Homo sapiens: one gene and its partner. The protein of the gene in region 1 interacts with the protein of each later gene in a pairwise test. Each region holds a gene or a part of one and is shown in the gene's direction. Other genes may lie near its edges.

Region 1 (3,742 bases):
AGTGGCTTGATCAGACCCACAGCTTATGGGAGACAGAGCTAGGCATCAAACCCACTTCACACATTCCCAGAACAGGTGGTGGTGACCACAGGTTTCCTGCCGCTGGCCAGGTGATGCCAGGTGGTGGAAAAAGCCCAGGTTTGGCTCAGTTTGGCTCATTAAACATGCATTGAGTATCAGCTGTATCTTAGGCATCGTGCTAAGTCTGAGGGATACAGAACCCAAACAGAAAGCTGCCCTTGCAGAGCACACAGCTCTGGGAGAAAGAGATGCAGACCTGGAGTTCTGACATTGTGATGAGCACCACGCTGGTATGACGGGAGCACAGAGTGAGTGTGTCCCCCGTCTGGGTAGGGCTGGGCATGACAGGGGCTCTTTGCACACATCCTCTTTGAAGAACAGAGCTGTGGATGACAGCACATGCTTTCTTTTCCTCCTCCCTCCCTCCCTCCCTCCCTCCCTTCCTTCCCTTCCTTCCCTTCTCTTCCCTCCCCTTCCCTTCCCTTTTCCCTTTTCCCTTTCCTCTTCCCCCTTTCCCCTTTCCCCCTTCCCTTCCTTTCGTCTTGTTCCCAGGCTGGAATACAGTGGCATGATCACAGCTCACTGCAGCCTCAACCTCCTGGGCTCAAATGATCCTCCCATCTCAGCCTCCCAAGTAGCTGGGATCATAGGCGTGAACCACCACACTTGGTGATTTAAAAAAATTTTTTGTACAGATGAGGCTCTTGCTGTGTTGCCCTGGCTGGTCCCAAACTCCCAGGCTCCAGTGATCCTCCTGCCTCAGCCTCCCAAAGTGCTGGGATCATAGGCATGAGCCACCACACCACACCCAACAGCACATGCCTTCATTACTCTTGTTCCTAAAGCCAGAGAAGAGACAGCTGGTTTCCTCTTTCATTGTGTTAAAATCATTTGTTAAAATCATTATGTTAAAATACTTTAAAAGCCCCTCCTAAAGAACTTTCTTTTATGGAACCTGGGATTTTGTTATTATAGCTTTTTTTTTTTTTTTGAAATGAGGTAAAACCCATAAAACATAAATGATCATTTTAAAGTATACAGTTCAGTGGCATTACATACATTCACAATATTGTGCAATTAACACCTGTATTTAGCTTTAGAACATTTTCATCCCCCAAACGGAAATCCCATCTCCATTAACAGTCATTCCCCATTTTTCCCTCCTGCAGCCCCGGCAACCACTAATCTGTCTCTAGATTCGCCTATTTTGGACACTTCATATAAATGATATCATATAATATGTGGCCTTTGGTGACTGGCTTTTTTCGTTTAGTGCAATGTTTTCAAGGTTCATTCACATTGTAGCATGTGTCACTACTTCATTTTTATGGCTGAATAGTATTCCATTCTATGGAGATCCCACATTTTGTTTATCCACTCATCCTTTGATGGACATTTGTGTTGTTTCCACCTTTTGGCTATTATGAATAATGCTATCATTACTTACTTAAAGAAACTTTTATTAGAGTATATCGTTCATATAGAGAAGTGTACAGCTTGATGGAGTTTCATAAAACACACACACACACCTGTGTAACCAGCACCCAGGACCAGAAGCAGAACATTATCCACCTCCCAGAGCCCCCTTTTGTGTTCCATTACTATTGCTTTCTGTGTGGCATTTCTATGAATTGTCTTTTAATTTTATTTATTTTTATTAAAAATATAAAATAGAGACCAAGCTCCCTATGTTTCCCAGGCTGGTCTTAAACCCCTGAGCTCCAGTGATCCTCCTGCTTTGGCCTCCCAAAGTGCTAGGATTACACACATGCGCCATTGTGCCCTGCCTGAATTGTCTTTTTTTTTTTTTTTTTTTTTTGGAGACAGGGTCTCACTCTGTTGTCCAGGCTGGAGTGCAGTGGCACAATCATGGGTCACTGCAGCCTCGACCTTCTGGGCTCAAGTGATCCTCCTGCCTCAGCCCACTGGGACTACAGACACGTGCCACCATGCCCAGCTGATTTTTGTATTTTTTGTAGAGATGGGGTCTTGCCATGTTGACCAGGCTGGTCTGGAACTCCTGGGCTCAAGTGATCCGCCTGCCTTGGCCTCCCAAAGCGTTAGAATTACAGGCGTGAGCCATCACACCCAGCCTGAATTGTCTTTTTTTTTTTTTTTTTTAAATTTAATGGTCGGGCATGGTGGCTCATGCCTGTAATCCAAGCACTTTGGGAGGCCAAGGTGGGTGGATCACTTGAGGTCAGGAGTTCAAGACCAGCCTGGCTAATATAGTGAAACCCCATTTCTTCTAAAAATACAAAAATTAGCTGGGCGTGGTGACACACGCCTGTGGTCCCAGCTACTCGGGAGGCTGAGGCATAAGAATCACTTGAACGCAGGAGGCAGAGGCTGCAGTGAGCTGAGATCACGCCACTGCACACGGGCCTGGGCGACAGAGCGAGATTCCGTCTCAAAAAAAAAAAAAAAAAAAAAAAGAAAAAAATTCTAAGAAGTTGTTTACTTGAGTGTGTCATAGTGGTCAAATACAAACCTGAATTTGGGCCTTAAGAACAAGGATGAGTAGGCCTTATTAAACAGCTGGCTGTCTCTGATCTGTCATCTCCTAGCAAAGGGATTTGTTTTCATGTCTCAGGAAGATGCTGGTAACATTTTATGATGCTTGCTGAGAAAAGTCTCCTTTGATGTTACAGGGATATAAATGATGTAGAATAAGGGGAAGCTCAGAAAGGAATGATTTCCTAAGGAGTATTCTGACTCTAGAAATCACACCCAAGGATCCAAACTTCACTTGAATTAGGTTAAAGTTCTGCTTCCATCCTCAGATGGGTAACCACCTGGGGCTGGCTGGCATCATTGCAGCTGCTGCCCATGGTCAGCGGTCACGTGTCATTTCAGCGAACACAGGGAGTCAGGCTTGTTCTATAGTACATGTGTGGTCATTAGATAAACTAAAATGTATCTTCATCCAGCAGGGTAGAGAACACGCTGGTACCAAGATCTCTTAGTTTACATTCTATTTCTTTGCTGCCCCTATCCTGGCTTGAAAATATTCAGAATACTTATTAGAAAATGTACTTCATTAGGAAGAGGGAATTGCCTCCCTCGTCTCTCTCTGACAGGTATTCAGCTACCACCTACTAGAGAGGGCAGGGAGCCATTGAAGTGCTTTCTGGAAGATCCAGGGTGGCTGCAATGATGGACTTAGCTTCTTTATTTTACCTGGGAGCAGTCGCAGGCCCTTCTTTTCCATTTTCATGCTGTGGCTTGACATTTAATTTTAAAAGCCATTCTGAATGACATGGCAAGGGGCGAGAGAAAGTGGTGTCTCAACTGACAGATGCTCACTTTGAATGTTATTTGCAGTGGGGCTTATCATTCTTTAATCCACAGCAGGCAAACCCAGCCAGCTTTTGAAGGAGAGGGAATCAAAGTATAAAATTGCGTCCTCTCTAAGTTGCAGTAGATATGACTGACTAGGCAGGTCAAATTATTTGTCCCACCTTTCCCCAGCTGACCTATTTTGCAGAGTTGCACCTCCTCTGAAGACTGAAGCTAAATGCAAGCCCGTCGAGGGGGAATGTGTTTCTTGGGGGTCGTGAAGCGGGGACTTGGTCTTTTTCCCTCATGTTGCTTTTCTCTGTGTCTCCTCAAGATCCCGTCGGGCCTCTTCATCCCCAGCATGGCTGTGGGCGCGATAGCGGGCAGGATGGTGGGAATTGGCGTGGAGCAGCTGGCCTACCATCACCATGACTGGATCATC
Region 2 (3,756 bases), on another chromosome or scaffold:
GTTAAATAGGTTTAAGTCTAGTGCAGCGTTTAAGGCCTGATTTCAAACGAAAGTATTCTTCAATGTTCGAAGACGATACTGTGACAGAATACATCTACCACTGTAATGTGCAGACTCCAAGGTGAGGGTTAGGATTCTCAATTCACTCTGTGTGTGTGTGTGTGTGTGTGTGTGTGTGTGTGTTTGTGTGTGTTTTAGACTATTTTTTTTAAAACTATTTATTTATTTATTTATTCATTCAATACGGGGTTTCGCTCTTGTCACCCAGGCTGGAGGGCAATGGTGCGATCTTGGCTCACCACAACCTCCGCGTCCTGGGTTCAAGCAATTCTCCTGCTTCAGCCTCCTGAGTAGCTGGGATTACAGGCATGTGCCACCACGCCCGGCTAATTATTTTGTATTTTTAGTAGAGACGGGGTTTCTCCATGTTGGTCAGGCTGGTCTTGAACTTCTGACCCCAGGTCATCTGCCCGCCTCTGCCTCCCAAAATGTTGGGATTACAGGTGTGAGCCACCGTGCCCGGCCTTTGTTTAAAATATATCAGTGGTCCAGAAGATTTGTATCAGTAGTTAAATGACTGAATTTAAAAGGACAAGTGTCTAATACATTTTATTTTACTCATCTATTCTTAGAGTACCCACTGTATAAAACATTGTGCTGAGTTCTGATGGGGGATTAAGAAGTAACATGTTCACTCTTCCCTCAAAGTTCTCATGAACATGTTGAGAAAGTCTTGGTCTTGGGCATCTCCAAGAGATGGTTTGAGTTGAGAGTTGAAGAATTTCACATAAAGAAGTATTTCCCAAACTGAGTATGAATGTTTCAAAAAAAGAAAAAAGGGTGCTGGATTAAACAAAAGTAAATGATTGTCTATACTATGAATCCTCTTAGAACCTTTACTATACCGAAGGGTATTGAATCTCCCAAGTGAATGGGAGATGCTATGTGTATTTTTCAAGTTCATTTGATGATTGTACTCCTGAACAACTCTAAAGATCTGTAGGTCAGCATTAGAAATGCAGCTGCAGAGGGTGAGGAGTAAGTGAGGGATTCTGCATGTATTTTGACAGTGATTAGAAGGAGAGAGAGAGAATGGGGCATAGTAGCAGAGGGAGCAAGAGGGCCAAATGTATGTTTTAAAAATATGACTTATGGATGTTGGGTGAAAAGTACCAGTGGAGAAAACAGAGCCTGAAGATAGTGGGGGGCTAGGAGGAGGCCGAATGATAAGGCCCTAGAGTTTCTAGGAAGAGCATCAAGAATAGAGTGCAAAGATGAGAGCTGCAGTTCTCATGCTATGTTGTGTACTGGAATTATTGGGGGTGCTTGTTGAAATGTGACTCCTGAGGTTTGTTTCTAAGACTAATATTAGCATTTCTGGGCTGCATCTCTAACAAATACTCTGGTGATTCTGTATAGGTGAACTATGGAGCACACTTTAAGACAGAGAAGTGGTATCTCATCCTTTCTAAGACTGAGGTTTGGATGAAAGGCTAAGAGGCGAGATGCAGAGACAGCCTCCCTCTCTTTTATTTCCTCCCTCACTTTTGGCAGAAAATATGTACACCTACTTTATTAAAAAGATTGAGGCCATGGTAGCTATTTATAGGTAGCTGTAGCCTCAGTCTTTTTAATAAAGTAGGTTAGAGGTTCTCTGCCAAGAGTGAGGGAGGCTAGAGGTTCAAGGTCTTCAAGAGATTGAGGTTTTGTGAATTGCTAGGCAGTCAGGTTTGGTGGATTAGGTCTACACACTTCCAACAGTTTTTTTTAGGGGTCTTCCCCGGGAACATCATTCATTTTCCTGCATGGCGTAAGTTTTACTCTTCACGTACTCTTATTTCATGATTACATGTGTTCGTGTAGTCCTAGTTTGTTACTTTGATTGTAGTGAGACTTGAATTCTTCATAAAAGGCAAGTTAGAATGATGTCTGGTTTTGTAAGAATAGCAGAAGGGACCAGGCGTGGTACTCACGCCTGTAATCCCAGCACTTTGGGAGGCCGAGGCGGGCAGATCACAAGGTCAGGAGTTTGAGACCAGCCTGACCAACATGGTGAAACCCCGTCTCTACTGAAAATACAAAAATTAGCTGGGCATGGTGGTGCGTGCCTGTAATCCCAGCTACTCAGGAGGCTGAGGCAGGAGAATTGCTTGAACCCGGGAGGCAGAGGCTGCAGTGAGCTGAGACTGTGCGTGCAGCTGCACTCCAGCCTAGGCAACAGAGCTAGACTCCATCTCAAAAAAAACAAAAAAAACAAAAAAAAAAAATGAATAGCAGAAGTGACAGCAAGATAGACCTATCCTGAGAGCTTGCAAGAATATATTGTCTGAGTTTCTTCTTAACTTGGTAATGGTTTTAGCATTGCAGGTGAAACGCTGGTGCCATGAACCTGGGGATAAGCTACCTTCTACATCAGTTTAAATAAGGACAAAAAAACATATTTTTAACTATCTCCACAATAAATAATTTAATGATAGAAAATTAGGGTTGTACATTTTGGTTTACAAGAAAACTTTTTTAAAAATCAGCTGGAGTATACAACAGCCTTGCTTATCTAACAGTGATCTGTGAGATTTGTTCCTTACACTGTCTCATAAATTATTTTCTATTTAAGCTGAGGTTTTTCTTAGGTGCTGGAAAAGCTAAATATGAATGTGTTTTGATAGAAGTGACAGTGCAATGCATACTCATTCCCAAAAATCATACATCGTGATTTTCTCCTTGCCGTTAAAGTGGTGAGACAGCTTTCAAGAATATGACTATTCCTTATGGATGGGCAAAAAGGCCAATGCTCCAGCGAATTGGTAAAATGCACCCTGACATTCCAGTTTCAGTGATCTTTGGCGCCCGATCCTGCATAGATGGCAATTCTGGCACCAGCATCCAGTCCTTACGACCACATTCATATGTGAAGACAATAGTAAGTGTGTGGCTTGATTTGGGTTTTTAGGTATAGGTGAGGTCCGTTTTATTATCTCCCTTAAAAGAGGTTTTAGGTCATCCTCGTGTTGCAGGTCATCTGAGCCATACCTGCAGCCTCAGTCGGGGACGTGATACCACCTGTGATGGGTGCAGGGTTTGGCCTGCACACATCTTCATGTCCAAACCGTGAACTACCTTTCTGAATGACTTTTCCTGTCCCTAGAGCCACAGCATTAGGAGAGATGGACAGAGGGATTGGTCCAGTAGCACTTCAAGTAATTCCCACCTCACAAGGCAGCACACTCTCACTTTTTTCAGTTTCTCTGTTGGCACTTTTATTAGTGGTCAATTTAGTGTTTTTTGCATATTAAAATTTTATTGAGATTCAGTAGATTTTTCTATTCTCAGATCCTTTTAATGGATATACTTAATAGTTACTATAGATTATTGTTATTTTTTAATCACGTGTTTTATTTAAATACAGTGGCTCTCACTTTTATTACTAAGTGTCTTTGCTTATATATCATTCTGTTTTATTAAATGCTTTTACTCACTAACTGTCTGAATGCTTTTCCTTATCCAGGCTATTCTTGGGGCAGGACATTATGTATATGCAGATCAACCAGAAGAATTCAACCAGAAAGTAAAGGAGATCTGCGACACTGTGGACTGAACACACTGAAGCTCTGATGGGAAAACCTGGTGACTGATATAGTTGTTCAGCAATAATTCATAGTCTGTGATGAAGAGTAGTGAATACAACACACAACCAGGCAGCCTTCTTGACTATACTTTGCACATGTTTTCTTTAGGAATTCACTCACACATTTAAAC

Evidence for each region.
Region 2: the proteins of CLCN4 (region 1) and ABHD5 interact in binary tests that used the Homo sapiens proteins (3 or more experiments, as listed by UniProt).

What each region holds. Positions count from the first base shown.
Region 1 is NC_000023.11:10,208,833-10,212,574, forward strand, and holds part of CLCN4 (H(+)/Cl(-) exchange transporter 4), read left to right. Parts: intron 1-3,634; coding exon 3,635-3,742. UniProt on the Homo sapiens protein: Strongly outwardly rectifying, electrogenic H(+)/Cl(-)exchanger which mediates the exchange of chloride ions against protons.
Region 2 is NC_000003.12:43,714,938-43,718,693, forward strand, and holds part of ABHD5 (1-acylglycerol-3-phosphate O-acyltransferase ABHD5), read left to right. Parts: intron 1-9; coding exon 10-121; intron 122-2,733; coding exon 2,734-2,920; intron 2,921-3,505; coding exon 3,506-3,595; 3' UTR 3,596-3,756. UniProt on the Homo sapiens protein: Coenzyme A-dependent lysophosphatidic acid acyltransferase that catalyzes the transfer of an acyl group on a lysophosphatidic acid.